Homo sapiens: one gene and its partners. The protein of the gene in region 1 purifies or fractionates together with the protein of each later gene. This does not show direct contact. Each region holds a gene or a part of one and is shown on either strand. Other genes may lie near its edges.

What was found.
Region 2: the proteins of PATL1 (region 1) and EDC3 purify together in Homo sapiens (co-immunoprecipitation; one large-scale study listed by IntAct). This does not show direct contact.
Region 3: the proteins of PATL1 (region 1) and PHF20 fractionate together in Homo sapiens (co-fractionation; one large-scale study listed by BioGRID). This does not show direct contact.
Region 4: the proteins of PATL1 (region 1) and TNRC6A purify together in Homo sapiens (affinity purification with western blotting, with the first as the bait; one study listed by BioGRID). This does not show direct contact.

What each region holds. Positions count from the first base shown.
Region 1 is NC_000011.10:59,659,038-59,666,662, forward strand, and holds part of PATL1 (protein PAT1 homolog 1), read right to left. Parts: intron 433-7,625; coding exon 215-432; intron 1-214. UniProt on the Homo sapiens protein: RNA-binding protein involved in deadenylation-dependent decapping of mRNAs, leading to the degradation of mRNAs. Acts as a scaffold protein that connects deadenylation and decapping machinery.
Region 2 is NC_000015.10:74,662,838-74,670,462, forward strand, and holds part of EDC3 (enhancer of mRNA-decapping protein 3), read right to left. Parts: intron 1,872-7,625; exon of another isoform or gene 1,546-1,871; intron 1-1,545. UniProt on the Homo sapiens protein: Binds single-stranded RNA. Involved in the process of mRNA degradation and in the positive regulation of mRNA decapping. May play a role in spermiogenesis and oogenesis.
Region 3 is NC_000020.11:35,776,118-35,783,742, reverse strand, and holds part of PHF20 (PHD finger protein 20), read right to left. Parts: intron 1,438-7,625; exon of another isoform or gene 1,134-1,437; intron 1-1,133. UniProt on the Homo sapiens protein: Methyllysine-binding protein, component of the MOF histone acetyltransferase protein complex.
Region 4 is NC_000016.10:24,786,575-24,794,199, reverse strand, and holds part of TNRC6A (trinucleotide repeat-containing gene 6A protein), read right to left. Parts: intron 4,969-7,625; coding exon 2,383-4,968; intron 728-2,382; coding exon 551-727; intron 1-550.

The DNA of each region.
Region 1 (7,625 bases):
TCAAGCTGCTTTAGAATACGAAATTATAGGGCTCCAGAATATACATTATTCCCCAAGTTTATCTCTAGAACTTCTATCATCAGGAAATATATTATCAATTTTCTATGGTATATGTAAATCTCTCATTATAATAGATAAAATAAAATGGCAAAGTTCAATACTTCACTTTAATTTTTAGTCTGCTATAGTTCTCAAATCACAGTAACTTACTTACTTGTAAAACTGGCCTGGTCTGCACTGCCCTCATAATAGCTGGATCTTCTAGTTCATTTTCAATCACCATCTTACTGAGCCTTTCTGCCAGATTCTCCTCATGGTCACCCAACAAGTCCATTTCATCTCTCTCTCCATTGCCTGTTTGTTCATTAACTGCCACTGGTAGCTTTTCTTCCAATTCAGCCAGGCGCTCATGTGCTTCCTGCCAATCATCATCTATAAGATGACACAGTTCATGTAAGAAATAGTTCATAGTGGTACAAAAAAGTTTTACACAATTATTGTTTTTTTTTTTTTAGACAGAGTCTCACTCTGTCGCCCAGGCTGCAGTGCAGTGGCGTGATCTCGGCTCACCGCAACCTCCACCTCCCGGGTTCAAGCAATTCTCTGCGTCAGCCTCCCAAGTAGCTGGAGTAGCTGGGACTACAGGCGCCCACCACCACACCTGGCTAATTTTTGTATTTTTAGTAGAGGTGGGGTTTCACCATGCTGGCCAGGCTGGTCTCAAACTCCCGACCTCAAATGATCCACCCATCTCGGCCTCCCAAAGTGCTGGGATTACAAGCATGAGCCACCACGCCCGGCCTACACAATTCTTCTGCTAAGCAAATGAATAATTCCAGAAGATAGGTAGAAAGTTAAGTTTACACTTAGAAACAGGAAATAAGGTTTAAACTAAGGGACACGTAAAGCATGCTTTTTATAAGTAAAAGCAAATAACATTATACCAGGAATAAAATTCAAACATGTGAATTAATAGCTTAAAACATTATCAATAATGTCCAAACTATATTCTGAAACTGTTTCCCAAATTGGTGATAGATATGTATAGTACTACTAGTTGGTTTTGAGATTCTATGACATTTCAAGCAAAAACTTTAAAGGGAAGTTAAAACTCATAGCATTAGCATACAACTTCCTCTTAGATTTTAAGTGCCACATTCTTTACATGCTTTTGAATCCATTCGTTCCATTCAATTAATATTTGGTAAGCATCTATTATGTGACAAGCCCTGTTTTAGACGCATGGGATACATTGGTGTACAAAAAGACACAGAGATTCTGCCTTCATAACACTTTCATGCAAGCAGGAAAGAGAGAGATGATAGACAATAAGCATAATGATTAGATACTATACCAGAAGATGAAATTGCTGTAGGAATATAAAGGAAGAAAGGCAGATTGAAAATTTAAATAGATGGTCAGAGGTAGGCCTCATTGAGAAGATGACATTTGAGCAAAGATTCTAAAGAGTAAGAGGGTTAGCAATTTGGATATCTGGGAGAAGAGGGTTCCAGGCAGAGGGACAGTCAGTATAAAGAAAGGCCTTAAGGTGAGAGATTGATGGTTTTGAGAAACGGCAAGGAGGACTGTGTCTGGAATGGAATGAGCAGGGTGGGGAGAGTAGAAGAAAATGAGGTCAAGAAGTCATGAGGAGGGAGCTCATTCTGGGCCACTATGATTGAAATGGGAAGCCAATGGAAATTTTCATTTGGCTTAACTTTTAAAAGAATCACTCTGGCTGCTGTGCTGAAAACAGGCTAGGGAAGAGGAAGGGGCATTTCCTCTTTTATCTTAACTATGTCTGCTATTACTGCACACTACTATAAAGTCTGTAGCACTGACATTAAGGTTGTTTCTGCATTTGGTATGTTGGCATCATTTTTTCTGTTTTGGAATCCCATTACAGCACAGATTACAATCTTCAGAACCCTCTATCAGCTGCTCTGGAGCTAGACCTTACTTCCAACGCATCTCACTCCAGTTCTCTCCAATCTTATTCCATTCTGCTTCCATCATGAAAGCTGTACTCACAGTTTTGCTCCATTCAGTATTTTTATTTTTATTTTTTGAGACAGGGTCTCACTGTCGTCCAGGTTGGAGTGCAATGGCGTGATCTGGCTCACTGCAGTCTCAACCTCCCGGGCTCAGGTGATTCCCCCAACCTCAGCCTCCCAAGTAACTGGAACTACAGGTTTGTACCACCACACCAGGCTAATTTTTATATTTTTTGTAGAGTCGGGGTTTCCCCATGTTGCCCAGACTGGTCTTAAGCTCCTGGGCTCAAGCAATCCACCTGCAACAGCCTTCCAAAGAGCTGGGATCACAGGCTTGAGCCACTGCCTCTGGCCTTTCTTTTCAGGTATTCAAATGTGAAACTTCTTCCTCCTCCTCAATGGAGCTACTCCTAAATAATCCTTTCATTTTATTTCTTCCTTTACCTCATCTCTATATGCATTACTTTCTAACCCACAAAAAGTATTATTTTGTATATGTTATATGGTATTCTTTTTTTAGTTACATCCTTTATATGTTTTATAAAATTCAACAGACAGGGATAACAGGTTATAACCAACACAGAAACAGAGACTTTCTTTTTTCTGCTTTCAGAGAAAATACATGTTTAAAAAATTCAAACACCATAAACACATGTAACTTAAGTGAAAGTTCCCCACAATTCCACAGCTGTGTTAAGTTTTAAACAGTTTTAAGCTGTGTTAAGTTTATAAAGTTAACTTGTTTCTTTTTATTTAAGCAATATGTCTTGGACATCTTTTCATGCATGCACACAGGCATAACTACTGATAGTAACTCATTCTTTTTAATACCTACATAAGATTGCATTTTATTGCTAAACTATAATGTAATTTATCCCCTACTGGTAAACATTTGGATTATTTACAATTTTCCAATATAATAATTAATACTGTAATAACATCATACATATCTTAGCATTTTATGTGACTATTTAAATAAACTAATTTCCTTTTAGAATCAGATTACATTAACAGTTAAAATTTGCTATATATATGTAATTTTTAATCATACAACGATGTATCACATAATACTAGTGATCCAAAGAGTGAGGGAAGTGGGACTTTCAAATATATAATTTTGGTATCATAGGACCCACTGCCTAGTTTGGTTGATTTATGTATTAGTTGTGGTAAGGGATTCCTTAAGTTGTGGATCACTGTGCCATCACTGGGATAAAGACTGTGGGCAAAAGCTATAAAAATATCCTTACTTAAGCCTCCGGGACATGGGTCTTCTTTATAATTATGTGGTATTTTCTTTCCCACCCAATAGTTTCCTCTTACCTGAGTGACTAGTCAGGTGGCACTCTTCCTCTAAACTGTCATCTTACAGAAAAGAATTTAAGGTAGCCATTTTATGATGATGGTCTCTGATAAGCCTATCCTGATGTGCTCCAAAAAATGGAAAAATCCACTTTAAATGAAAATTACAGTGTTAATTTAAATGACTAGTCATATGAAAGAAAATATTTAAAGAATAATGTAATTAAAAACCAAATGTGACATTCATATTTGTGTCATCCTTGGTAAGGAACAGTAAGCTGGGACAGGATAAATTGTTTTTTGCAACTTTACTAACTTAGCAATGCCACAAGAGTGGGAATCTATCATCCTGAATTGAGGGATTTGTAAAAACATTTACTTCCCAAATTTAAGAAGTTAATTTGTTAGTGGATTTGTTCTAATGCAGTAGAGTTCTAATTTGCATGCTTTTCTATCACTACTTCCAGTATTCATGCTTGCTAACTTTACCAAATCCTATCAAATATGGATAATCTATTTCCCCTTAATAATAATATTTTAAAAATATTGGTTAAGTCGCCATATTCTGTGAGAATAGATCTCTGGTGAATTGATTGTTACATTTTCAAACATGTAACCAGAGGAATCTATGCCATAAAATACCATCATCATCATTTTAGATTTTTCTTACTCTTGTAAAAAATTATCTGAAGTAGTATTTTAGAGATATTGTGCCCTTACTATAAAACAATATTTCACCCTGTATCTTTTTCAAATGACCTAAAAATATAGTTACTTAGATATGCCAGTGCTTGACCTGAGTCCATTATTGGTCAAAATGATAAAAGGTAGGCAAAAGAATAACAGACAAATGAAGGGAAAGAGATTATCCGTAATAACGAACTAACCTATACTCTGATACGGGTTACTGAATTCCTGGCTGCTTCTATAAACTTATACTTGTAATAACCCCTGAAGCCTGTCTCAGGGAGTTTTGAATGAAAACAAAATAAAAAGGAAGAAGTGATTTAATTTTAAGGCAATCTCAATCTCTAAAGACTATAGTAGCTATCAATAAAAGGGAGGTAGGAAGGAGGGTGATTCCTTCCAAGTGGAGGCAGGAGATTTCCAAAGACTCCCCCAAAACTATTAAACATAACTAGTAGTTTACAGTAATTGTGTCTATAGTTACTTAACCCGTCACTCTTCCTCATTTGTTAAAATGAGGATAATAATAGTACCTATCTCACAAGGCTGCTATGAGGATTAACAATATATGTAAAATATTTAGAATGGTGCCTAGCACATAATAAGCACCATGTTAAGTGTAAGCTTTTATTTTTAGAGAAGGAGTTGGGATTACTGCAACACTATTTATTGCTCTAAGATGATGCAAACATTTTTTCATGCAGAAGACTAGTTTCTTAAGGAAAGGTGACCATTTGTAGCCAGTGACCTAAAATGTCTACTGTAATAGCAGGTATTATTCCAGATGCCCGCTATATGAATTAAAAATCATAAAATCAAAACAAATGTCAAAGGTCTGACATTTCACCTCTTGATTTAAACTCTCTATACCAGCTTTATATCAACCTGCAGAGGAGTATCAAAGAAGTCACAGGTTGACTTGGAAAACAATTTTCTTTTTATAGTATTTACACCAAGCTGTTATGAGGAATTAAGATCTTCACTTTACAATTCCAGTACATTACACTCTCAAGGGAAAGGGCTCACCTTTGGAAATCTTTTCTCTATATTATTATAAACTTTCTTGGCCAAAAAATCCTTTCTAATCACCCTTTGGCCCTAAGGTACAAAGTGGGCTAATCATATGCTATTTAATTGCCTTAACTTTGTACTACCTGTTCTTTTACTGTGTAAACCTAATGGCTTTTTCAGCACGTGTACACTTTTCTTCTTTCCCATCATATAAAATACCGTTCCGGACACTCTAACATCCTTTTAAGGCAATATTATTCCCATCTTATGAGAAAAAATAGAAACTCAGGAAAAAAAGACTGTCCATAGCACTCTGGAAGTCAATGAGAAGGTATGACTCTTCCTCTTCTGTCCAGGTTGAAAACTGAGAACATGGTACAATGCTGCCTCATTTTAATGTCTATAAATCAATTCTAGCTAATTCATTTTAATACTGAAGAATTTGTTGAAAAAATGGTTAACATTCAGTACAGTATTTTAATAGAAAAAGAGTTCTAGAAACAAGCACATGTTGGTAGCTTCTATGGTATTCTATTTTTAAAGTATTTAATTAACTTTTTAGAGACAAGGTCTCGCTCTGTTACCCAGGCTGGAATGCAGTGGCACCATCATAGCTGATGCAGCCCTGAACTCCTGGGCTCAAGGGATCCTCCAGCCTCAGCCTCAACCTCCTAAGTGGTACATACCATCATGCCTGGCTATTTTTCAAAAAAAATTTTGTGGAGAAAGAGTCTCACTATGTTGCCGAGGATGGTCTTGAACTCCTGGCCTCAAGTGATCCTCCTGCCTTGACCTCCCAAAGTGCTGAGAGCTGTGGGCTTGAACCACCACAAATAGCTTATTGTGTCCTACTGATTATCACTAAACTATCTTCCAAATATAATTTGCAATTCACATCAGTTTCCTGCTTTTGTAATTCCACTCTACATCTCTTTGCCTGTGATCTCCATGGAGAGAGATAATAGCATCTTGGATCATGTTATCCTCCTGGACAATCTCATCTCCTAACCCATGCCTATAATCCAAAAGGTCTTTGATTCCTTTCCATCATGAGTCTAGCTTCTACTTTCAACACTTTTCTTGCTGCTTCTAATCATAACAAAGTTTTAGTTCTCTAATGAATTTTACAAATGACTGACAATATTAAAACACCTTCATTTTTGCCAGTTTATTCAAGTCAGTCTAAGCTTTAATAAATGTATTAGGTCACTGCAAAACCAGTGACCATTATAATACTTTAAGGCCTCTTATTTGTTTTTGATATTCAACATCTTGGGATTACTGACTATTGCTAAATTTTCTCTTTTTCCTTATGACTTAACTTGGAGTATTTGTTGCACAGACAGAAGTGTTGCGACTACAAAAGAATCACACACATTTATACATTTGAACATAAACGCTGTTATTGCTGCTTTCCAGCACCAAGTCTAAGCAAACATATCTGCATTGACTCTTACCTATTCATTTGCTTAAAAATATACAGTTTTGGCCAGGCGTGGTGGCTTGCACCTGTAATCCCAGCACTTTGGGAGGCTGAGGAGGGATCACTTGAGGTCAGGAGTTCATGACCACCCTGGCCAACATGGAGAAACCCTGTCTCTACTAAAAATACAAAAATTAGCCGGGCGCTTGTGTTCTCAGCTACTTGGGAGGCTGAGACAGGAGAACTGCTTGAACTGGGGAGGCAGAAGCTGCAGTGAGCCGAGATCATGCTACTGCACTCCAGTCTAGGTGACAGAGCAAGACTCTGTCTCAAAACAAATATATGTGTATGTATACAGTTTAAAAATTTAAATTTCAATTTATTACTCCACTTGTTCTACACCTGTTCTAAGTAACATGTGTTCTCAAACTTTATCATATAAGCTTACTTCCTAAATTTTCCATCTTGGCATTTATAACCCCGTGGCCTGTAACCTTAGTTTGGCTCTTCAGTTTTTAAACTTTTTCCAACTCTTAAAATATGTATCTATAGGCTGGGCGCGGTGGCTCAGGCCTGTAATCCCAGCACTTTGGGAGGCCGAGATGGGCGGATCACGAGGTCAGGAGTTTGAGACCAGCCTGGTTAGCTCGGTGTGGTGGCGGGCACCTGTAATCCCGGCTACTCGGGAGCCTGAGGCAGGAGAACTGTTTGAACTCAGGAGGCGGAGGTTGCAGTGAGCCAAGATCGTGCCACTGCACTCCAGCCTGGGTGACAGAGCAAGACTTCATCTCGAAAAAGAATAAATAAATAAATAAATAATATGTATCTATACCCAGGGATGGACAAAATTTCATCTGTGCATACTTTTCTAACTTATGAGTCCTTTCTTGACCCCCAAAATTCTTGCTATAAAAAGCTTTATATTTTGAAGATACTATAAGTTGCAAAGTTATATACTAGTGATAGACTAAATTTTGAAACACATATACCCACATCCTAGAATCTGAATTTTCTACTAGTACACTAGTTTTCCATAAGTTATATGTTATACAAATAAAAATTCCTCTCATCTAGGATTAATTTAAATCTCTCTTAAATGTTTACTTCTCTAAACATTTGAATCCCTCATAGGGGCAACCTGTAGTCATCGATCATATAGCTGGAAGGGGCAAGGCTTACAGAATACCTGATTTTATAGGTAAGGCAAA
Region 2 (7,625 bases), on another chromosome or scaffold:
GACACTGCTAAAGAGGAACAGGTAGAGGCACAAAAACAGTTATAGGAGAAAACAGGAAAGAATCTAGAATCCAAAGACCCAAATACTCTGAAGGCAGGTCAGACTTGCCAAATGACACTGGTAGAAGGCCAGTTATCCTGGAACTAAAGTTTGAAAAGCATGAGCTGGCCTGGCGCAGTGGCTCAACACCTGTAATCCCAGCACTGTGGGAGGCCAAGGCGGGTGGATCACCTGAGCTCAGGAGTTCGAGACCAACCTGGCCAACATGGTGAAACCCTGTCTCTGCTAAAAATACAAAAATTAGCCAGGTGTGGTGGCAGGCACCTGTAATCCCAGCTACTCCAGAGGCTGAGGCAGGAGAATTCGCTTGAAGCCAGGAGGTGGAGGTTGCAGTGAGCCGAGATGGCGCCACTGCACTCCAGCCTGGGTGACAGAGCAAGACTCCGTCTCAAAAAATAAATAAATAAATAAAAAATAAAATGTAAAGAAAAAGAAAAAGAAAAGCATAAGTTGCTTCTCTAACCACTAGCCCAGTATTTGTTAGCCCTAAGCAGTGCGCTAACCACTGAACACCAATATGAATGTTCAAAAGCACAAGCTGAGCATCCCTAATCCAAACATCCAAAATCCAAAAATTTCTGAGCGCCAACGTGATGTTCAAAGAAAATGCTGATTGGAGCATTTTGGATTTCTGGATTAGGGATGCTCAACTGGTATGTATTCCAGAAATACTCCAAAATCCTTTTTAAAAAATCCAAAATCTGAAACACTTCTGGTCCCAAGCGTTTTGCGTTAAGAGATACGCAACTTTTATTTGGGAGGAGAGAGTGCAGCATAGAAAGAAAACTTTTGTTCAGTTTCAAAAAAAAAAAAAAAAAAGCTAATAAATAGTACCCACTTCATATCATGCCACATGATGAGGAGCTATTGAAATGCAAAGTAGAAAAGTAAAGAAAACAAACATGACTAGCTGTAAAGTTCGTTCACAGCATGTTGACAAAGTGCCCCACTATAAAGACTAACAGGGTCCACAGTGGGAGACGCCTTAATTCTGCCTTAATGATGCTGGGCACTGGTCATCATTTTCTGGCTCAACTGTAGGACTCTACAAACATAACTTACAACAAAACCCAGAGATGTTGTATGAAGAAGGTTTCAGGTGTTTTCCTGTACTCCTCTAAATGCAGAGTTGATTCATTCATTTGAGACATAGACACTAAGGACTAGCTATGTTCTAAACACTGTCAGGAAAGCAGAGTGTGAAAAATATTTCCCAAGAGGAAATACTGACATCACAGGTCAGTAAGAGAAAGATAAGAGAACATAAAATAAATGCAAGGCAGGCTAATGTGCTCAGTTGTCTCTTATTCTTCCCTTTCCTCATACTTTAATACAAATATTAGGAAGTCCTGAGTGAACAAGCTGTCTCAGTACTTGGCTTACTCATCCCAAAGGGCCTGGCTCTGCATTAAACTGGCCTTTGGCCACTGCGAGAGAAAAGCACTTCCCTTGGAAAAGACAAACAGTCTTCCCAGATTTCTTTACCTTTCAATTACAAGGGCCATGCAAGTACTGCAGGCTGGCTGCCTTCCTGTGCCGTTTTTCTGCCACCCTTTGGCACAGAGGCCCTTTGGCCAGGACAACTTGTAACAAACCCATTGTTGTGTAACCCTCAGTGCCACTTATTTATTGGTTTTTGTCACACACACACTGTAAGTGGGAACTTTGTCCTGCACTTATCACACTAAAGGGTACCTGAATGTTAAACTACAAATGTTTTACTGCCAGATTAAACAGGCATCATGAGAAGGTGCCTGAGAATATATGGGACCTTCTTCTCAACTCTCAAATTCTAGGCCCTGGGTTTTCAAGCCTATTAGATATATGAAGCACATCCAAGGAAGTTTAAAAGTCAAGAAAACCTCAGTAGAACCATGAAAACCTGGCAAAATTCACTTCCTGCCTCAGGTGGTGGGATGACTGTTAAAATGAACAGACCGTTAAAGCCCAACCATACTGCAACAAGATAATATCGACCATCTTTCCATTTAAAAGGTTCAATTCCATCCCTCATTTCTCTCCACCTCCAGTAACAAAGAGAAAAAGGGAAATCAGCACTAAACAGAGGCACTGTCATGCCTATAGGACCACCTCTCTCTAAATATAAATGAGTTAAAGGCCAGCTATCTACTTTGTTTGTTTTGAGATGCAGTTTCACTCTTGTTGCCCAAGCTGGAGTGCAATGGCACGATCTCGGCTCACTGCAGCCTCCACCTCCCGGGTTCAAGCAATTCTCCCTGCCTCAGCCTCCCAAGTAGTTGGGATTACAGGCATGCACCACCAGGCCCAGCTAATTTTTTGTATTTTTAGTAGAGACAGGGTTTCGTCATGTTGGCCAGTCTGGTCTCGAACTCCTGGCCTCAGGTGATCTGCCCACCTCAGTCTCCCAAAGTGCTGGGATTAGAGACATCAGCCATCATGCCCAGCCTCAGCTATCTACTTTCATGTTCTACAGGCAAAAGAGCCTTAACTTAACTGTTAAATTTTTATTCAACTGCATGTTACAATGACTATTCAAGCTCATAGACTAAGATTTCAGAGAGGGATGCCTTTCATCTGCCCCTCATGGTCACCATTTTCAGCTGTGACATGGGATTTGATAAATATGAATTATACCCATACACAGAGCTGCACCCTAAACAAGGCTTGGTTTCCCTCTGCTCCCTGGGACTGATGTTATGTCTATTTGACAAACATTCTGAATGGTCACAGAAAAACTATTCTTTACATGATTCTTTAAACCCACTCCCACCCGAAAAGAGATTAAAATCTGCTTGTGCTAAATCATCAGTGTTGGATTAGCTAACTATTATAAACCAACAAATTCCTCAACTCCTTATTGCAATCCTGAAAGAACACTTAAAAGCCAGAACTGAAGACAGATTATATTTCTTTCTTTCCTTTTTTTTTTTTTTTTTGAGACAGAGTTTTGCTTTGTTGCCCAGGCTGGAGGGCAGTGGCACAATCTCAGCTCACTGCAACCTCCGACTCCCAGGTTCAGGCAATTCTTGTGCCTCAGTCTCCTGAGTAGCTGGCATTACAGGCACCCACCACCACACCCAGCTGATTTTTTGTATTTGTGTACAGACGGGGTTTCACCATGTTGCCTAGGCTGGTCTCAAACTCCTGAGCTCAGGCAACCTGCCCGTCCCAGCCTCCGAAAGTGTTAAGATTACAGGCATAAGCCACCACACCCGGCCGACAGATTATATTTCTATAGCTTCATCAATCTACTAGTCTCAATATCAATGTACATAAACTGGAGAAAATTCTAAGGCAGACCTTTTTACTTACAGGGCTCAATGAGTGGAAAAATAATTATAACTCTACCTTCTATCAGAAACCTATTCTGAGCCACGTCTTATTGCCATTCCCAGGCCACAAACATTTTCCAAACTAATCTGGATTCTACATAAGTTTCTTGAAAAATAGTAACATTTTACTGCCCTATGATCTCTTTACCTCATTTATGTACAGTTAACAATCTAGAAAAAGGAAACTGACAAAACAGCAAAAGCAGAATAACCAAAACCTGGAAGCCACCAAGATGTCCTGCAATAGGTGAATGGGTAAACAAATTGATATATCCACACAATGGAACATTATCCGTCAATTAAAGAAATGACCTATCAAGTCACAAAACGACATGAATGAATCTTAAATGCATCTTGCTAAGTGAAAGAAGCCAGTCTGAAAAGGGCTACATACTGTATGATTTTAATTATGTGATATTCTGGAAAAATGCAAAACTGCAGGGATGGTATAATAAAAAGATCAGTAGTTGCCAGGGGGAAGTGGGGGAAGTTGAACAGGTAAGGCACAAGAGATTGTTTAGGACAATGAAACTATTCTGTTTAATACTGTAATGACAGATACATGATGCTATGTATTTGTCAAAACCCACAGAATTTTACAGCACAAAGAGTGAGCCTTAGTGTTTGCAAATTTTTAAAAATCATTTAGGAGGTTAGAAGATCCCAGGATGGAATGCAGAATGTGATAAAACAAATTAATTGTATTATGAATATATGAAACAAGTCAATGAAGGAAATGGGAGACCTAAATAACTCTAGAAATGAATGGAGTCAGATGAAAGGCAAAAGAAACAGTACGTAAGCACCACATTCTGTTTGATAGTCTCCCACAGGAATGGCGATACAAGTTAATAATTCTGATACCACTATACATGTATACTGGAATTGAATAATTATGTAAAGAATGAATGACAATAGGAGACAGGTTTCTCACTGTTGGAGTGAGAAGTAACAGACAAGCAAAAGGAGAAGGCTAGAAGGATCCATGTGGTAATGGATTAAAGTTGGAGACATCAGTATGAACTCATACTTAGTATAGTACAATATACATAGTTACATATAGAAATATTTAAATATGTATATATATGCTGGTTAAATATACACACATATATTTTCTTTTCTGTGAACTCTGCAGAGAAGTATACACATTTTCTTGCTGTCAGCTATAAGGGTGACACCCAGGAGCAATGAGCATCCCTAGTGAAGAAGAAAGAAAGGAGAAGGGGGGAGGAGGGAGGGGGAGAGGGAGGGGGTGGAGGGAGGAGGAGGGAGGAGGAGGAGGAGGAGAAGCAGCAGCAGCAGCAGTAGTAGTAGTAGTAGTGGTAGTAGTAAGCATCTTTCAGTGTGAGAAAGTACCTAAGTACTAAAAAAAAAAAAAAATAAAATCCACAATGATTGGAGTATGTCAAAGGGACATGAGATCCAAGTGAAAGATTGGAGACTAGCCAAAACTGAAATAATTTGAGTACCAAAATAAAGTAATATTGAATTATAAGCCAAAGTATAAAATAAATACCCATGAGTACATGCTGATATAAATAAATGACTGAATAAATAAACAAATGGGGGAGAAGAGAGGAATCTCTGGCATAAAAGAATTCCAAGTAATGTCTGAAGATGCTGTGTCCTCAAGGAGAGGGGACATAACTTCTCACTCCCTGGGTGTGGGCTGCACATAGTGATTTCCTTCCAAAGAGTACATATGTAAAGGGGAAGAAAGAGTCACTTTACAGAGGAGAAACTAGATATATCCTACTTTAGCCAGGTGATCAAGGTGAACATCAAAAGTTATAAACCATGGTGATAATATATACACTTGACACAAGGTGATGAAAATGGTACTTTACCTCTGTTGTCTTCCACCCCCAAACATATAACCCCAGTCTAATCATGATTTAAACATCAAGTACCAACTGAGAGACATTCTACAAAATACCTGACCAGTATTCATCAAAATGTCTAGGTCATCAAAAACAAGGAAGGTCTGAGAAACTGTAAGAGCCAAGCAGAGAAATGACTACCAAATATGATGTGATATGCTGGACAGGATCCTGAAACAAGGGCATCCGGGTAAAAACTAAGGCAATCTGAATAAAATATGGACTTTGTTTAATGATAATGCATCAACATTGGTTCAATAATTATAACAAGTATACCATACAAATGTAAGACGTTAATAACGGGGAAAAATGTGTAGAAAAAAATAATATGAATTGCTAATAAGGGTCATCTTCAAGTGCACGGAAGATTATAAACTGCCTATTTGAACTTCTAACAAATCAACAATTTCTGCTAAAAGAAAAAAGATTTTCAGACAGGGCAACATAGTGAGACCTTGTCTCTACTAAAAGTAAAAAGACTAGCCAGGTATGGTGGCACACACCTGTAGTCCCAGCTACTCAGGAGGCTGAGGTGGGAGGATCATTTGAGCCTGGGAGTTCAAGGCTGTAGTGAGCTGTGATCGTATCACTGCATTCCAACCTGAGTGACAAAGCAAGACCCTGTCTCAAAAATGAATGAAAGAAAGAAAGAAAGAAAGAAAGAAAGAAAGAAAAAGGTTAAAGTCTAAATGGAAAGAATCATTTTCTATCCAAGCATTCTACAGTTTTTCTAAGGATACAGAAGTCACAACTGAATTTCAGTCTCATATTTGCAAACATCGTCATTTCAGATAGTTGTTTCATATGCACCAAAGGAAACTACCTTGAAACTGTATATTACATACATTAAAACATTTTTTTAGGCCAGGTGCAGTGGCTCACGTCTGTAATCCCAGCACTTGGGGAGGCCGAGGCAGGCAGATCAACTGAGGTCATGAGTTCGAAATCAGCTTGGGCAACATGGCATTATCCCATCTCTACTAAAAATACAAAAATTAGCCGGGCGCAGTGGCTTATGCCTGTAATCTCAGCACTTTGGGAGGCCGAGAGTTTGAGACCAGCCTGACCAACATGGAGCCCCGTTTCTACTAAAAATACAAAATTAGCCAGACGTGGTGGCACATGCCTGTAATCCCAGCTACTCGGGAGGCTGAGGCAGGAGAATCTTTTGAACCCAGGAGGCGGAAGTTGCGGTGAGCCAAGATCACGCCATTGCACTCCAGCCTGGGCAATAAGAGCGAAACTCTGTCTCAAAAAAAAAAAAAAAAAAATTAGCCGGGCATGGCAGCAAGTGCCTGTAGTACCAGCTTCTAGGGAGGCTGAGGCAGGAGAATCACCTGAACATGGGAGGTGGAGGTTGCAGTGAGCCAAGATCACACCACTGCACTCCAGCCCGGGCAACAGAGCAAGGCTCCATCTCAAAAAAAAAAAAAAATTAGTTTTAATTTAGTTGTTTATTCACTTGAATCAGGCATCTCCAAAACTTAAAATGTTGGCCCCTGACACAGGTGTCACACCACAAGCTACTAATAGAATTCACCCAGCACACTAAAACCTTACTACATTGCCACCAGGACCACAGTGTGAGGAGCAACAATGGTAGCAAGAAGTATCCGGAATTTTATGTAATAAACTTTCTGAGTGGGGTCTAGAGAGACCTAGCTCACTCTAAATTGTGCCTTTTAGAAGGTATTGCCATAGCATGACTCTAGCTTATAATTTTAAATGAGTTAATGAATACTCATTTAAAATTTCTTTTGGTTGTTCATTTTGAGACAGTCTCACACTGTCACCCAGGCTGAAGTGCAGTGGCATGATCTTGGCTAATCACAACCTCCGCCTCCCTGGCTCAAGCCATCCTTCCACCTCAGCCTCCTGAGTAGCTGGGACCACAGGTGCACGCTGCCACGCCCAGCTAATTTTTTTTTTTTTTTTTTTTTTTTTTTTGTAGGGATGGGGTTTTGCCATGTTGCTCAGGCTGGTCTCGAACTCCTGGGCTCAAGCGATCCACCTGCCCCAGCCTCCTGAAGTAGTGAGATTACAGGTGTGAGCCACTTGCACCCAGCCTCTCACTTAAAATTTCTAATACATTCTGCTACCATCTGTGAGTACAAAACCATCTAAGTAAAATAAGAATAGTTTGGCATTTGGAAGTAATTTTTTAAAACAACATTCATATTAATTTAAGGAGCATAACAGATTCCAGTGAATGTTATGATTCGCTATTGTAACATTATTCTAGTAAATATGTTGGAGAAGAACAGTTCTAGTGAATTAACTATGGTTTTGGAAGGCAGCTATGCTCACCATCATACCACCAACACAACTATGGTTTTATTTTATATTATTTATTTTATTTTTGAGACAGAGT
Region 3 (7,625 bases), on another chromosome or scaffold:
CCCAAAATGCTGGGATTACAGGAGTGAGGCACCATGCCCGGCCAATCCCAGTACTTTGGAAGGCCGAGGCAGGAGAATCACTTGAGCCCAAGAGTTTGAGATCAGCCTAGGCAACATAGCAAGACCTCGTCTCTATAAATAATAAAAAAAAAAAAAAAATTAGCCAAGCGCGGTGGCATACACCTGTAGTCCCAACTACTCACGAGGATGAGGCAGGAGGATCCCTTGAACCCAGGAGGTTGAAGCTGCAAGACAGCTGTGATTGTGCCACTGCACTCCAACCTGAGCAACAGAGTGAGAGTCCATCATAAAGAAAAAAAAAAAGTAAGAGTCTTTTTCTTTGGCATACACTACTGATAAAGTTATGGATGAAATACAAACTAACAAGGCCCACTGAAGGGCCCATGGAGGAATTTTACACACATTTTCTGAGAGGAATAAAACAAAAGTAATAATGGTAACATATACTCAACTCCTCATAAATCTTCAAGCCAGGAAAACTCTATAAACTATGTTTTCTTTTTCTTTTCTTTTTTTTATTTTTAAACACAGGCTCTCACTGTCACCCACACTGGAGTACAGTGGCAGGATCATAGCTCACTGCAGCCTTGAACTCCTGGGTTCAAGCAATCCTTCCACCTCAGCTTCCCAAGGAGCTGGGACTACAAGGCGTGCACCACCATGCCAAACTAATTTTTTTTTTTTCTGTGTTATAGAGATGAGGTTTCACTCTGTGGCCAGGACTGGTCTCAAACTCCTGGCTTCAAGCAGTCCTCCTGCCTTGGCCTCCCAGAGTGCTGGGATTACAGGCATGAGCCACTGTGCCCAGCCAAACCAGGTTTCTTTAATTTCCTTTACAGATTAGGAAATGGAGGGAAAGGGTAACATTTACTGATATTTCCAATGACTGATGTCAGACAGTTATGATAATACTTGGGTGAGGAAACAGGCTCATATAGGTTAAGTAACTTGCTAGGCTGGAAAGTTCTGCCTCCAATGTGCATAACACAATGAAAGGTTCAAGAGGTTTAAGCCATATGCCCAAATTACATTTGGCCCCAAGAGAGTGGCAAATACAGGCACTCAAACTCAGGCATTCCACCTCCAAATCCTACATCCTCACCACCACATACCATGCAGCCTGGACATGAAAAGTGACCTCTTGGCCAGGCACAGTGGCCTGTAATCCTAGCACTTTGGGAGGCCGAGGAGAGTGGATCACTTGAGGTCAGGAGTTCAAGACTAGCTTGGCGAATATGGTGAAAACCCATCTCTTCCAAAAATACAAAAATTAGCCGGGCATGGTGGCATCCGCCTGTAATCCTAGCTACTCGGGAGGCTGAGGCAGGAGAATTGCTTGAATCCAGGAGGCAGAGGTTGCAGTCAGCTCTGAGATGATGTCACTGCATTCCAGCCTGGAGAACAGAGTGAGAATGTCTCAAAAAGAGAAGAAAAAAAAAAGAAAAAAAGAAAAAAAAAACAAAACAAGAAAAAGAAAAGTGGCCTCTTTAATTACCTTGCCTTTACAAGTTGCACATGTCTAATTATCATATAGGTCACAGCACGACCAATTTCCTACTCATCAAAGCACATTACACAGAATTCAATACTCCATGGAACCAAGGGACAGTCAAGCAACCCAAACCAGTCATGCCCAGGAGCCTCAAAAAAGGCAGAAAAGTATTCAAAAACATGGAGACAGAAAGTAGAATGGTAGCTGCTGGGGCTGGGAGGAGGTTCATGAAAGAGGGAGTCAGTGTTTAATGGGTACAGAGTTATAATTTTTTTTTTTTTTGAGATGGAGTCTCGCTCTGTCACCTAGGCTGGAGTGCAGTGCAGCAATCCTGGCTCAGTGCAACCTCCACCCGCCCCCGCGTTCAAACAGTTCTCCTGCTTCAGGCTCCCTAGTGGCTGGGATCACAGGCATGTGCTACCACGCCCAGCTAATTTTTGTATTTTTAGTAGAGATGGGGTTTTGCCATGATGGCCAGGCTGGCCTCGAACTCCTGACCTCAAGTGATCTACCTGCCTCAGCCTCCCGAAGTGCTGGGATTACAGGCATGAGCCACTGGACCCGGCCCAGAGTTTCAATTTTGAGGAGTTACGGAGATGGAGAGTGGTGATGGTTGCACAACATTATTTAATACCAGTAAGCTATATAACTTAAAAATGGTTAAAATGGCAAATTTTATATTATGTGTATCTGACCACGACAACAACAACAACAAAAATTGAAGAAGAAAGAAAAATGTAGAAAGGCAGCTTGAGTTGGGAGAACTGGGCTTCTACAATTAAAGGATGTTTTGCATGGTCAAGAATGAAGGCCAGGCACAGTGGCTCACGCCTGTAATCCCAGCACTTTGGGAGGCTGAGGCGGGCGGAGACCAACCTGGCTAATACGGTGAAACCCGTCTCTATCAAAAATATGAAAATTAGCCGGATGTGGTGGTGCAGGCCTATAATCCCAGCTACTCAGGAGGCTGAGGCATGAGAATCACTTGAACCCCAGAGAAGGAGGTTGCAGTGAGCCAAGATCGTGTCACTGCACTTCAGCCTGGGTGACAGAGCAAGAATCCATCTCAGAAAAAAAAAAAAGAATAAAATCTTGCTCACGCCTGTAATCCCAGCACTTTAGGCCGAGGTGGGTGGAGCACCTGAGGTCAGGGGTTCGAGACCAGACTGACCAACATGGTAAAACTCCATCTCTACTAACAACAGAAAATTAGCCAGGCGTGTTGGCACATGCCTGTAATCCCAGCTACTTGGGAGGCTGAGGTAAGAGAATCACTTGAACTCGGGAGGCGGAGGTTGCAGTGAGCCAAGATCGTGCCATTGCACTCCAGCCTGGGCTACAAGGTGAAACTCCATCTCAAAAAAAAAAAAAAAAAAAAAAGGGCCAGGCACCAGTGGCTCATGTCTGTAATCCCAGCACTTTGGGAGGCCAAGGCTGGTGGATCATCTGAGATCAGGAGTTCAAGACCAGCCTGGGCAACATGGTGAAACCCCGTCTCTACTAAAAATATAAAAGATTAGCCGGGTGTGGTGGTGTTCGCCTGTAATCCCAGGTACTCAGGAGGCTGAGGCAGGAGAATCACTTGAACCCGGGAGGCGGAGGCTGCAGTGAGCCAAGATCATGCCACTGCCTTCCAGCCTGGGAGACAGAGTCAGACTCTGTCTCAAAAAAAAAAAAAGAAAAGAAAAAAAAGAAAAAAGAATGAGCCAGGCATGGTGGCTCATGCCTGTAATCCTAGCACTTTGGGAGGCCGAGGCGGATGGATTATGAGGTCAGCAGATCGAGACCATCCTGGCTAACATGGCGAAACCCCTGTCTCTACTAAAAATACAAAAAATTAGCCGGGCATCGTGGAGGGCATCTGTAGTCCCAGCTACTCAGGAGGCTGAGGCAGGAGAATGGCGTAAACCCGGGAGGCGGAGCTTGCAGTGAGCTGAGATTGTGCCACTGCACTCCAGCCTGGGCAACAATGTGAGACTCCGTCCCAAAAAAAAAAAAAAAAAAAAAAGAAATCTGGGGTGAGGGTGGCAAAGTGCCTCAGTGCTGGTTTCCAGGCTGCCACCTGTTTGATTTGTAGTTAAAATGACTTACTCAAATTTCTAGGGGAAAAAGCACGTTAGCTAGAGAGAGAGGGATGTAAGAGCACTGGGACAGGAGGCAAAGAAACCTGGACTCCAATCGAGGCCCTGCTTATTAGCCAAATGACCTTGGACAAATTACTCATCTCAGTTTCCTCCTCTGTTAGGACAGGATAATAGGTCAGATGTAAGGATTCAATGACATTTAAGACAGTGCTCCAAAAATGCTAGCTATAGTTATCATTATTGTAAAATGCCCACATTTCCAGACCAAGTTTCCACAACCTCGAAATCCCAACACCTGTGCACCTGTAGAAGCAAGAAAGGCATTGGCCGGGCACAGTGGCTCACGCCTGTAATCCCAGCAGTTTGGGAGGCCGAGGCGGGTGGATCACTTGAGGTCAGGAGTTCAAGACTAGCCTGGCGAACATGGTGAAACTCCATCTCTACTAAAAATACAAAAAATTACCCAGGCATGGTGGCGGGCACCTGTAATCCCAGCTACTCAGGAGGCTGAGGCAGGAGAATTGCTTGAACCCAGGAGACAGAGGTTGCAGTGTGCCGAGGTTGCACCACTGCACTTCTGGGCGACAGAGTGAGACTCCGCCTCAACAAAAAAAAAAAAAGAAAGAAAGGAATGTCAATCCACCAGCTATGGACTTTTTCCATATGAGAAAGAGACCTCTTGAAAATCAGGTCTCTACTAGGACAGAGACCCCCAAATATCCTTCTAAGATACCTGGAAGTCAGCCTTTAAAATCTGAGAATTATGTTCCTGACATGGAATAAACTATCACTGAATAAAAACCTTGGTTTAGGCCAGGCGCAGTGGCTCACACCTGTAAACCTAGCACTTTGGGAGGCCCTGGCAGGCGGATCATGAGGTCAGGAGTTCGAGACCAGCCTGGCCAATATGATGAAAGCCAGTCTCTACCAAAAATATAAAAGATTAGCAGGGTGAGGTGGCACACACCTGTAGTACCAGCTACTTGGGAGGCTGAAGCAGGAGAATCACTTGAATCCGGGAGGCAGAGGTTGCAGTGAGCCGAGATTGCACCATTGTACTCTAGCCTGGGCAACGAAGTGAGACTCCACCTCAAAAAAAAAACAAAAAACAAAACAAAACAAAAAAAAACCCTTTGTTTAAATCCCAAGCCCCTCCTCTTGCTCCTTCCCCAAAGTTCACTGATTCAGGCTCCACCACTCTTTCCTAAAACTGTCCTATTTACATTTAGTCACTCATATTAGGCTTCTAAAATTGTACAGGATTTCTGCCAGCTCATTAGTTCCATTATTTGGCAAAAGAGAGGAAGGTCCAGGTAGGACCTAGCCCAAGATCTAGCAAAGTTGTCAAAGCATTATTACAAATTAAGGGTTCAATTTTTTTTTTTTTTTTTTGAGACACAGTTTCACTCTTGTTGCCCAGGCTGAAGCGCAGTGGTGTAATCTCGGCTCACTGCAACCTCTGCCTCTCGGGTTCAAGCCATTCTCCTGCCTCAGCCTCCCTAGTAGCTGGGATGACAGGCACCTGCCACCACGCCTGACTAATTTTTTGTATTTTTAGTAGAGACGGAGTTTCACTGTGTGTTAGCCAGGCTGGTCTTGAACTCCTGACTTCAGGTGATCCATCCGACTTGGCCTCCCAAAGTGCTGGGATTACAGGCGTGAGCCACAGTGCCTGTCTCAATTTTCATTAGGTTACCCTATAGTCAATAGCCTGTAAGGGGCAGTCACTGGCAAAGATGGATTAGACAAAGACATCACCCTCCTTTTCTCTAGGCTCATAATCCAATCAAGGATCTTGACTAAGCATACATTTTGGTTTAAAGAATGTTTATCAAGAAAAATGTCCCAGCTTAACCAACATAGTGAAACCTTGTCTCTACTAAAACTACAAAAAATTAGTTGGGCATGGTGGTGCGCACCTATAATCCCAGCTACTCAGGAGGCTGAGGCACAAGAATCGCTTGAATTCAGGATGCACAGGTTGCAGTAAGCCAAGACTGCGCCACTACACTCCAGCCTAGGCAACAGAGCAAGACCCTTTCTCAAAATAAATAAATAAATAAAATTAATAAAAAGACTTTATCAAGAAAAATGTAAACATCCTCCCTATTATTTCTTAGGAAGATGATGAAAGAAGAAAACTCCAGAGGTTAAATATACCTTTAAGTCCTGACTTCCAAGCCCCCTCAGCAACTGTCTTTGACAATAATCAGGTGCTCTCAAAGAACTGTTGGTTTTATTCATTTGTTAAGTTATTTGAAATACAGATTTCTTATCATTATCCTTAACAATTCCTTGTTCTGGGTTTTGTGGCTGTGTGTTCCTAGAAGAGCACTTGGAAGCAATGGGGTCTCGTGCTGTCACCCAGCTGTAGTGCAGTGGTACAATCCTAGCTCACTGCAGACTCTGAACTCCCTCGTCAGCCTCCCAAGGAGCTGGGACTACAAGCACGCACCACCATGCCTGACTACTTTTTTGTTTTTGGTGGGGGAGTAGAGACAGGAATCTCACTTTGTTGCCCAGGCTGGTCTTGAACTCCTGGCTTCAAGCAATCCTCCCACTCTGGCCTCCCAAAGTGTTGGGATTACAGGCGTAAGCCACTGCACCCACCCAACCACGAGTAATTGTCAAATGGTATTTGCACTTAGGATACACTTTCAAACTTCAGAAAGGAAGTTTAAGCACCTTTACAATCCAGGAAGACATACCAGGCAACTGATTCCCACAGATACAGGAGATCTTGGGGAAGGGGACTAAAAACATTACATCTCATACTTTCCCCAAATCCCAGCCAAAGGCAAACAACCTGCTTGCTTCCTCTTTAAATTTCATGCCACCTGCCCTGCTAATTCAAACCAAAAAACAAAGCTGTGGTATGGAGGAAATGAAGTCCCTTTTTAAGTATACATTAGATAAGAGAACTGACAAGTAAATACGGGGTATATAAGGTACAGACTCCTTCTTGGTAAGGCAGAGAAGTCACAAACATTGAATGGAGAACTCAGGAAGACTTCTTTGAGGATTTCAGGTAGTTCTGAATGAAATACAGCATGGAACTGGAAGAAGACATGGAAGCAAGAAGAACGCTGAAGTTGGGTTGAGAACAAGCTGGCTGCCTCAGCTAGAAAAAAAGATAATGGCAGAAGTGACTTGGACAAGGGAATAACTGGCAGGCTGCCCAAGGGAGCACATGAAAGAAATCAGATCTGCTGCAACAAGCTACCACAGGCAATGGGGTTTCTAAGCAAGGTAGCGACCAAGATTCAGCCAGGGTGGACATTGCAGATCATCAGCCCCTCATTTTACAAATGGGGAGAAGCAGGCCCATAGCATTAAGTGACTTGCCTGAGGTCTCACAGTAAATGGAAGAGCTAGGACTAGAGCCAAATCCAGATCAAATCCGTTACTGAATAGGATCTGACACTCATGTGAGGAATAGGGGTTGGAGGAGGACAGGGACACAAAATAGTCTAGTCATTCAGGTTTGTCCTGATTAGGGCTGGCAACAGGATCACGTGGAAGAGGGCCAGACAGGTGACAGCCAGGGAAATAGGTACAGATGATCCAACACACTTAGAAAGGAAAAACACTTTCAGAGGTAGTCTTTGTCTCCAAAAAAATTTTTTGAAAAAAGGAAAAACCCACTTGAGACTTAGAATAGATTAGACATGTGGGTACAAAAGGAGAAAGATCATCATAAAGCATGATCACCATCAAAGAATATCATCTTCTCCCCAGCATTTGTCTTTCTGGAGCACCCATTTAGAGAAAGCCAGAAGCTTCCATTCGAGGTCGGGGAACATAGCTTTATCCTGGCTTTTCCTGGCCCATTTCCAGAACCCAGAAAACCAAGAAGGACTCTTTGGAAATTCCAACACCTGTGACCCACTGATTTGGGGTATCACAGACTCCCTACTCATGGTAGGATGAGGAACCAGACAGACAAGCTGGCTATGCAGTATTTATTAGAATGATTCTATATCAATAATTATGTTCACATTCAAGTAAGAAATATGTAACCATTTAAA
Region 4 (7,625 bases), on another chromosome or scaffold:
ATTTTTATATATATTTTTAGGGAGAATGGCCAGAGAGTATTCAAAGCCTTAAGCAGAAAGCATCTTATCTTCACACATGGCCCTTGGGATTCCTACCGGGCATCTTGTACACAGCCTATGGGATAATGACAATGTTAATTTCAATCTTGGGTCTTTTCTGAACTATGCTAATTGTAACTTTCAGGGAATCATCTGACAGTCTGAATATGTGTCCTCATGGCTACACTAGTTGGCCTCTCAGGCTGGATGGCATGAAAGTTGCTAGTAGACTCTTCCTAGATAACCTAATTTGGTAAAATATAATTTAGATTTGATGAAGTATATGCAAATGAATAGTTACAGTTCTAAGAAATATGAGAAAAGAGGAAAATTCAGAAAGAGAATAAACCACGTTACAAAATCAAAGAGCAAAATACTGAACATCATCTATCATGTTACATTATATGAATATATTATAAATAACATAGAAACCTTATCTAATTATTTAATTATAGTCAGTGAGTGTTCGCCACTGCTACATAACAGCTACCAGGCATTGTCAATAACTTACCAGATTTGCTTAATGCTTGTGGACCAACAGAGCTGGAGCCCCACGTGGATGTGCTGGATGCCGCAGCAATGGGTTCCCCCCAGCTGGGACCACTGTCTATGGGCTTACCCCATGCTGAAGTACCATTATCCACAGTTGTGGCTGGAGTAGAAGGCTCCCCCCAGGGCTCACCCCAGCCTTTAGAAAGTGTGGGAAAAGAAGTCATCAGCATAGAAGGTAAGGAGGTGCAGTGGAATAAGGGACAATAAAGAAAACTTAGGGACCAAGGATGAAGAACTTCATGTTTATGTACTGAATAATGATACTGTGATAGGCAAAAAGATGGCATCTGTTTTATGTTAAAAAAAGACAAACTATTTCCCATTAATATAAGGTGAGAATTTTTTTAACTTTTTTCATAATTACCCTCTAGACCTAGAGCTGATTTTTGCATAGTTATGGAAAACCACTCTCCTTTGAGCATCAGTTTAATTCCTGAAAAAGTCAAGTCATTCTAAACCAAACCTTGTAAATTGGAGCAGGTGATAAGCTGGGTGACAGTGTATGTATAACATCTGTACCAGCTGGGTACAGTGGCTGATGCCTGTAATCCCAGCACTTTGGGAGGCTGAGGCAGGTGGATCACCTGAGGTCAGGATTTTGAGACCAGCCTGGGCAACATGGCAAAACCTGGTCTCTACTAAAAATACAAAGATTAGCTGGGCGTGGTGGCACACACCTGTAGTCCCAGCTACTCAGGAGGCTGAGACAGGAGAATTGCTTGAACCTGGGAGGTGGAGGCTGCAGTGAACCGAGATCATGCCACTGCACTTCAGCCTGGGTGACGGAGAAAGCCTCCATCTCCAAAAAAAAAAAAAAAAAAAATTGTGCCACAAGTGTACCCCTTCCACACCACCTACACTGGAAAAACAATTTACTACCCAGCTAACAATAATGGGTCACCTACTTTTTACATATGCTGAACAATGCTTATTTTAAAATCTGAAGTATTAGGCTGAGGTTGTCCAAAGCAAAAAAAAAAAAAAAAAAAAAAAAAGCCATAAATGTTTCATTAAAAAAAATCAAAGCCAACAGGCTTCATCTTAGATACATACTTCTTCCTTTTAAGAATCAAACCTAAATTAATACAACAAACTATACTTAGACTAAAAAAAAAAAATTCAGTGCCAAAAAGTTAGCTCATGAAAGCACTCCCATATCCACTTCCAATGAGACTATTAAGTCAATAAAACTTTTATTAACAAAGACAATGTAGCCAATCACACTTAACAAAAATGTTGTTGGGAAAATTTGCAGAGATAGGAATTAGTTCATTATTAGAGAGGAAAGTAAGGATATACTAGAAAGGTATTGTCAAATGTTTTAAATACACAAACATATATACTGTATCTAAGTAGAGTTGGATTTCTCACCTACTTAAAAAAAAAAATCCCTTCTAAAGCCAAATATACAACCTAATGTTTAGAGAGTACTGTATTTATGAGATACTTGTTTTATTTCTGGAGATATTTTAGTCAAATAATAAAACCACAAGTTAAGGCCTAACTCAAAAACAACTTGGAGAAGTGTACAGCATTCCCACTTGACCGCCTTTGTCCAATTCGCCTTCTCTTGCATTTCTAATAGAGAATGAAGTGTGCAGGACTCAAACAACACTGCCAAAAGTGGAGTTCTGTTCTCTGGTGGTAAACATCACCCCTATAATTTTTTTCAAGCTGCTTCTGGATTACAGTAAGAACAGCCTTTGTGTGCATATCCAAGTACTTTGTTATACAAATCTTATAATAACAGTAAGTTAAAACAAGGCTTGATTTCATAAAATAGAAACTTACCAGAGCCACTGCTTGCCTCTTTGTTTGAGATGGCACTTGCAGGCGTTAGCAGCTGATGTACCTGTGCTTGCTGGTCTGAACGGCTGTTGCCATTTGGGACGTTTTTGTTCCACATGTTCACATTTTTGTAGTTGTATTTGCTTGGATCTCCCCAAGCTGAAGTTCCATCATCAATCTCCATTTTGCGACGTATAGATTCTGGGGATGGTTCCTCCCAGCCTGTGGGTTCTTCTTCTTTTGCTGGGGCTGGTATAGGTCCCCCCAGCCAGCCTGTACCAGGAGGTTTGCCTGTAGCTGGTGGGATTCCCCAAGATCCAACAATGTCTTGTTGCTTGTTCCAGTCTGGAGAGCTGACTGGCTTTGACGAATCTCCCCAACCTAGAGACTGATTAGACTTTGGAGGGTCTCCCCATCCCTGGGAAGGAGTAGGTTTAGAAGATTCATCCCATCCTGATGAATTATTTGGATTTATGTTGTTTCCCCAAGTGAAAGAACTAGTTTTACCAAGTTCGTTCCAACCGGAAACGGACCTGTCACTGTCACTACCTCCTGAGCTGGATTTCTTATTGGCCTCACCCCAATGGTTATTCCTTGAAGTTTCTCCCCAGTTATCACTGGCAGAAACAGACCACCCTTGGCTTGATTTTTGTCCATCACCCCATCCCTGTTTATTCTTTTGCGAGTCATTCCATGCAGCCTTCTCCTCTTTGCAATTCCCCCACTGATTGCTCTTGACCATTCCTGTAGCAGCAGAATCATCTTCCCACCCCCCCTGGCAGTTTGAGCCTTTGGAATCTCCCCACCTCAGAGCAGGTTTGGGATCGCCCCACCCTGATACAGATGAGGTATCATTACCATTAGGGCTAGTCTTATCTATACATGCCCCTGAGTTAAAAGTCTGTGTTGCAGAGCTTCCCCAGGCCTCTGTCCCATTGTCAGTCTTTCGTTCCCCTCTAGGTGATGTTTCTGTATCCCAGGCAGTATTCTGCTTAATAGGAGTCTGTCCCCAACCAGAGTTGGACAGGACACGTGGATCTAAGTCAGTTCTGTTTACAATGCTTTGGAGTAATGTGTGCTGATCAATTTTTCTTCTGTCTCTACTCTGACTTTCCCCAGTTCCTTTTTCCTCAAGGCGTCCAGTGCTTTCTGTACTACCATCGCTCTCCACTGTACCTCCTGTTTTGGCCCACACACTGCTTTGCTCATTTGTCTGAGATGTGGCAGAACCCTGATCCTCTTCCTCAGTAGATTTCCATCCATTTGTAAACGTCTTACCATTGCCATTTGCACTATCATTGGAATGCTGATTGCTAGGCAGTTTGTTCCACTCAACGCTGGGTAAATTAGTGCCAGTGTTTTGTGCAGGGGTTCCCCATCCTCTTCGACTTCCTCCAGAATTTGCGCCATTTCCACTTCCCCATGATGTACTCTGGGAGTTTGCTGCACCAGATTCCCACACACCACCTCCTTTGTTTGTGTTAACTTGAAAGTTAGTGCCCATAGGACCATTTACGCCAGGCTGCATTAGAGTTGCATTCACAGTGTCACCATTAGCTTGGCCATTAGGGCCTGAACATTTGTCTCCAGAGTAATTAGAACCATAGGCACCCCATGTAGTACCATAAGAGCCTCCACTTTTTGACTCTCCATTGCTAAGGTGAGAAAGGGAAGTGCCATTCATACCTGATGGAGCCTGCATCTGAGGATGATTCATTGTGCTCACACGCCAGGCCCCTGTGTTACTACTAGGCAGCTCATTATTCTGCACTGAACCGGAGTTTGGTAAACTAGAGGTCATAAAGTTAGTAGTGTTATTTGGTCCAGTCATTTCAGTGGTAATATTTTGAGGTTGACCACTGAATGAAACCTTCTGTGTACCACTTACTTCAGATTCACAAGTTTCCTGAAGGCTTCCCCAGGTACCATGGGTAGAACCACCACTCACTTTAGAGTTAATACTCTGATTGTTAGGCATCTGGCCTATAGTACTGCACTGAATATTAATGCCAGAACTACCACTCCCTACAGGCCCTTTTAGGGCAAGTCCATTGTTCTCTAATACTGGCCAGGCACCATGGTTGCTAGCTGAATTCAAAGTGCTTGGATTTAACCCTCCATTTGATGAAGAACTTACAGTGCCCCAAGCATTCATTCTATTGTTGCTACTTTCAGATTTGCTTTCAGGAGCATCCACAGAGACCTGACATGTGCTTATTATGGCTCCATGGGAAAAACCCCATGGCCCAGTACTACTTCCATGGCCCACATTATTGCTGCTGCTACCAACTACAAACTTGTTTTGGGAACCAAGTCCAGTGCTATTCCGAAGGCCATCTTTTTCACCACCTGTGTTCCCTGAAGCCATGATAGTGATGTTTCTCTCTGATTCAGAACTGGAGGCAGAATCAGCATCCATACATTCTGAAGCCAACTCCGGATCACTGCCAGGGGCTGAGGGCCATGCTTCTTTTTCCGACAAGTCACTTACAACAGCATTCTTACAGTTTGTGCTAGAATCACTTGTAGAAGACACAGGTCCCCGCTGGGAATTTTCATAATGGGATCCTGAAGTACTGTGGTTTATATCTAGGATAAAGGAGAAGTACAACTATTTATAAAGTGTTAGGCCATTTCAAAATGATACTAAAATCTAAGAAAAATGACGAATATGTTATAAATATATGTGGCTCCTCAATTTAACAAGCTATGATCCTTGGCAGAATGGTGACAAGGGCACTGGTTATCTTCTAGCCACCAACTTTCTATGTTCAACTGATACTATCCTAAGATCCTAGAGGACATAACAGCCCCTTGATAAATACTTGCTGAATGAATACATTGTTAACATATCGGTAAATAAAAGAATTTTGGGCCGGGCGTGGTGGCTCACGCTTGTAATCCCAGCACTCTGGAAGGCCGAGGTGGGTGGATCACGAGGTCAGGAGATCAAGAACATCCTGGCTAACATGGTGAAACCCCATCTCTACCAAAAATACAAAAAATTAGCCGGGCATGGTGGTGGGCGCCTGTAGTCCCAGCTACTCGGGAGGCTGAGGCAGGAGAATGGCATGAACCCGGGAGGCGGAGCTTGCAGTGAGCGGAGATAGTGCCACTGCACTCCAGCCTGGGTGACAGAGCGAGACTCCGTCTCAAAAAAAAAAAAAAAAAAGAATTTTGGAGTCAAGAAGGTCTAGGAGGCAGCTACGCATTAGGATAACGGAACAACCCAGGCATAGAAGCCTGACATGGAAAGACAGGTAAGGAGAAGTGAATAGCCAAAATTTGATAAAATGTATCAGAAATATTTTTCCACCCTCTGTTTTCTAGTATAGCTTTTCCACACAACTGTTTTGAGTATTGTAACAAGTTTATAAAAATTTATAAGAATGGTAAGAATTGGAAAGCTTTTATCATTACATTCTATTTCATTAGTGTCCGTATTCAACCTGAAATATTACAGCCAAGTAACAGTATTTTCAGTTCAACTTCCTCTCATAAAATTTTCTTAATTTACCTTCCTAACCACATTTATATAAAAGAACAGAAAAGTAATGGTTAGTTATGTTGAAGATCACAGAATTATTATGATCTCAAAAAATCAAATGCTGACACTGGAGATGTTTAATGACCAGTCATACAATCCTATAATCTTGGACTTCCTGCTATGTATTACTATTTAGTTATTTTACCACAGGTAGGGCAGTTCTAGTGCTTCTGAATAGTTCCCCAGATTCTTAACTCTCACTTGGTCTAAGGATCTGGTAGGCAGACACTCCTCAGGGCCATTAACCTGCATAAGTCACGTGCATTCTGACTGTCTTGAGGAGGTACATTATATTGCAGTTTTCTACTAGAGTACAAATCAGAATCACACGTAGTGCTTTTAAGTATATATCTTCAAGGCAGTGTCCCAGACCTAATGAGCCAACCTTCAGGGGTTGTAGGCCTAGGAGATAAAAAGAAGTCACTATTAAGGTGATTTGCTAAAATGGAAAATCAGATTCAATTTGCATCATTTGCTCTCAAAGCACAATCATTAAGAAGCAAAAGAAGATCTGGAAACAGTCTGGAAAAGTGACTGGAGAGAGACCGGAAATGATATAAATGCATCAAATAATATACTTCAAAGTTCCATAAGTGACTCTAATTTCCACTCCCTGTTTAAGAATCATTTCTTTAATGATTCCTAAAGCTGCCAAAGAAGATTTGCCATCTTTCAGTGCCCATAAGGAGAATTTCTCATGAAATAAAGGGTAACAATAAGTCAGTCTCATTGGGTGTAAGCAAACCAACACACTAACATCTGCACCAGCACCATCAACAAATGTTTGGCATTCAGTACTATGTCTGACAACTTTGTGCGCACTTTTATCACTGAATCCTTAGAGCCACACTAGAGGATAGGTATTACCTTCACTTGCAGATGACAAAACTGAGGTTCACAGGTTAATTTATGGAAAATTAAGTGAGAAAGGCAGGATTCGTCAGAATCCTTCATAAAGCAAGGTGCCTAAGAATGTAGACAGGACTCTAGAAACACCAAGATTCAAGTCTGGACTCTGTATGACCAAATCTGCAAAACCAGAAGATAAACAATACTTCTTAACCTGGTTCTTTTGTTAATTTTATCATCATATGTAAAGCATTAAGCTCAGTGCTGGCTGCAAATAAGTGCCTCGTTAGGGTCAATTTGATGTAGTGATTAACAGCACAGATTGGGTAGCCAGAATGCTTGGGTTTAAGAGGCACTCTACCATTTACTAGCTGTGTGACCATGGCAAGATCCTCAATCTCTGTGCCTAGTTTCATCTCTAAAGTAGAAACAGTATTAGTACCAGGCCGGGCGCCGTGGCTTATGCCTGTAATCTCAACACTTTGGGAGGCCAAGGCGAGGGGATCACGAGGTCTGGAGTTTGAGACCATCCTGGCCAACATGGTGAAACCCTGTCTCTACTAAAAATACAAAAAATGAGCCGGACGTGGTGGCAGGCGCCTGCAGTCCCAGCTACTCAGGAGGCTGAGGCAGAATTGCTTAAACCGCGGAGGCAGAGGCTGTTGCCGTGAGCCGAGATGGCGCCACTGCACTCCAGCCTGGCAACAGAGTGAGACTCCATCTCAAAACACAAAAACAACAACAAAAACGAAACAGTATTAGTACCAATCTCACACAACTGTGGTGCAGATTATTAAAAGTACTCTGTACTGGCCAGGCGTGATGGTTCACGCCTGTAATCCCAGCATTT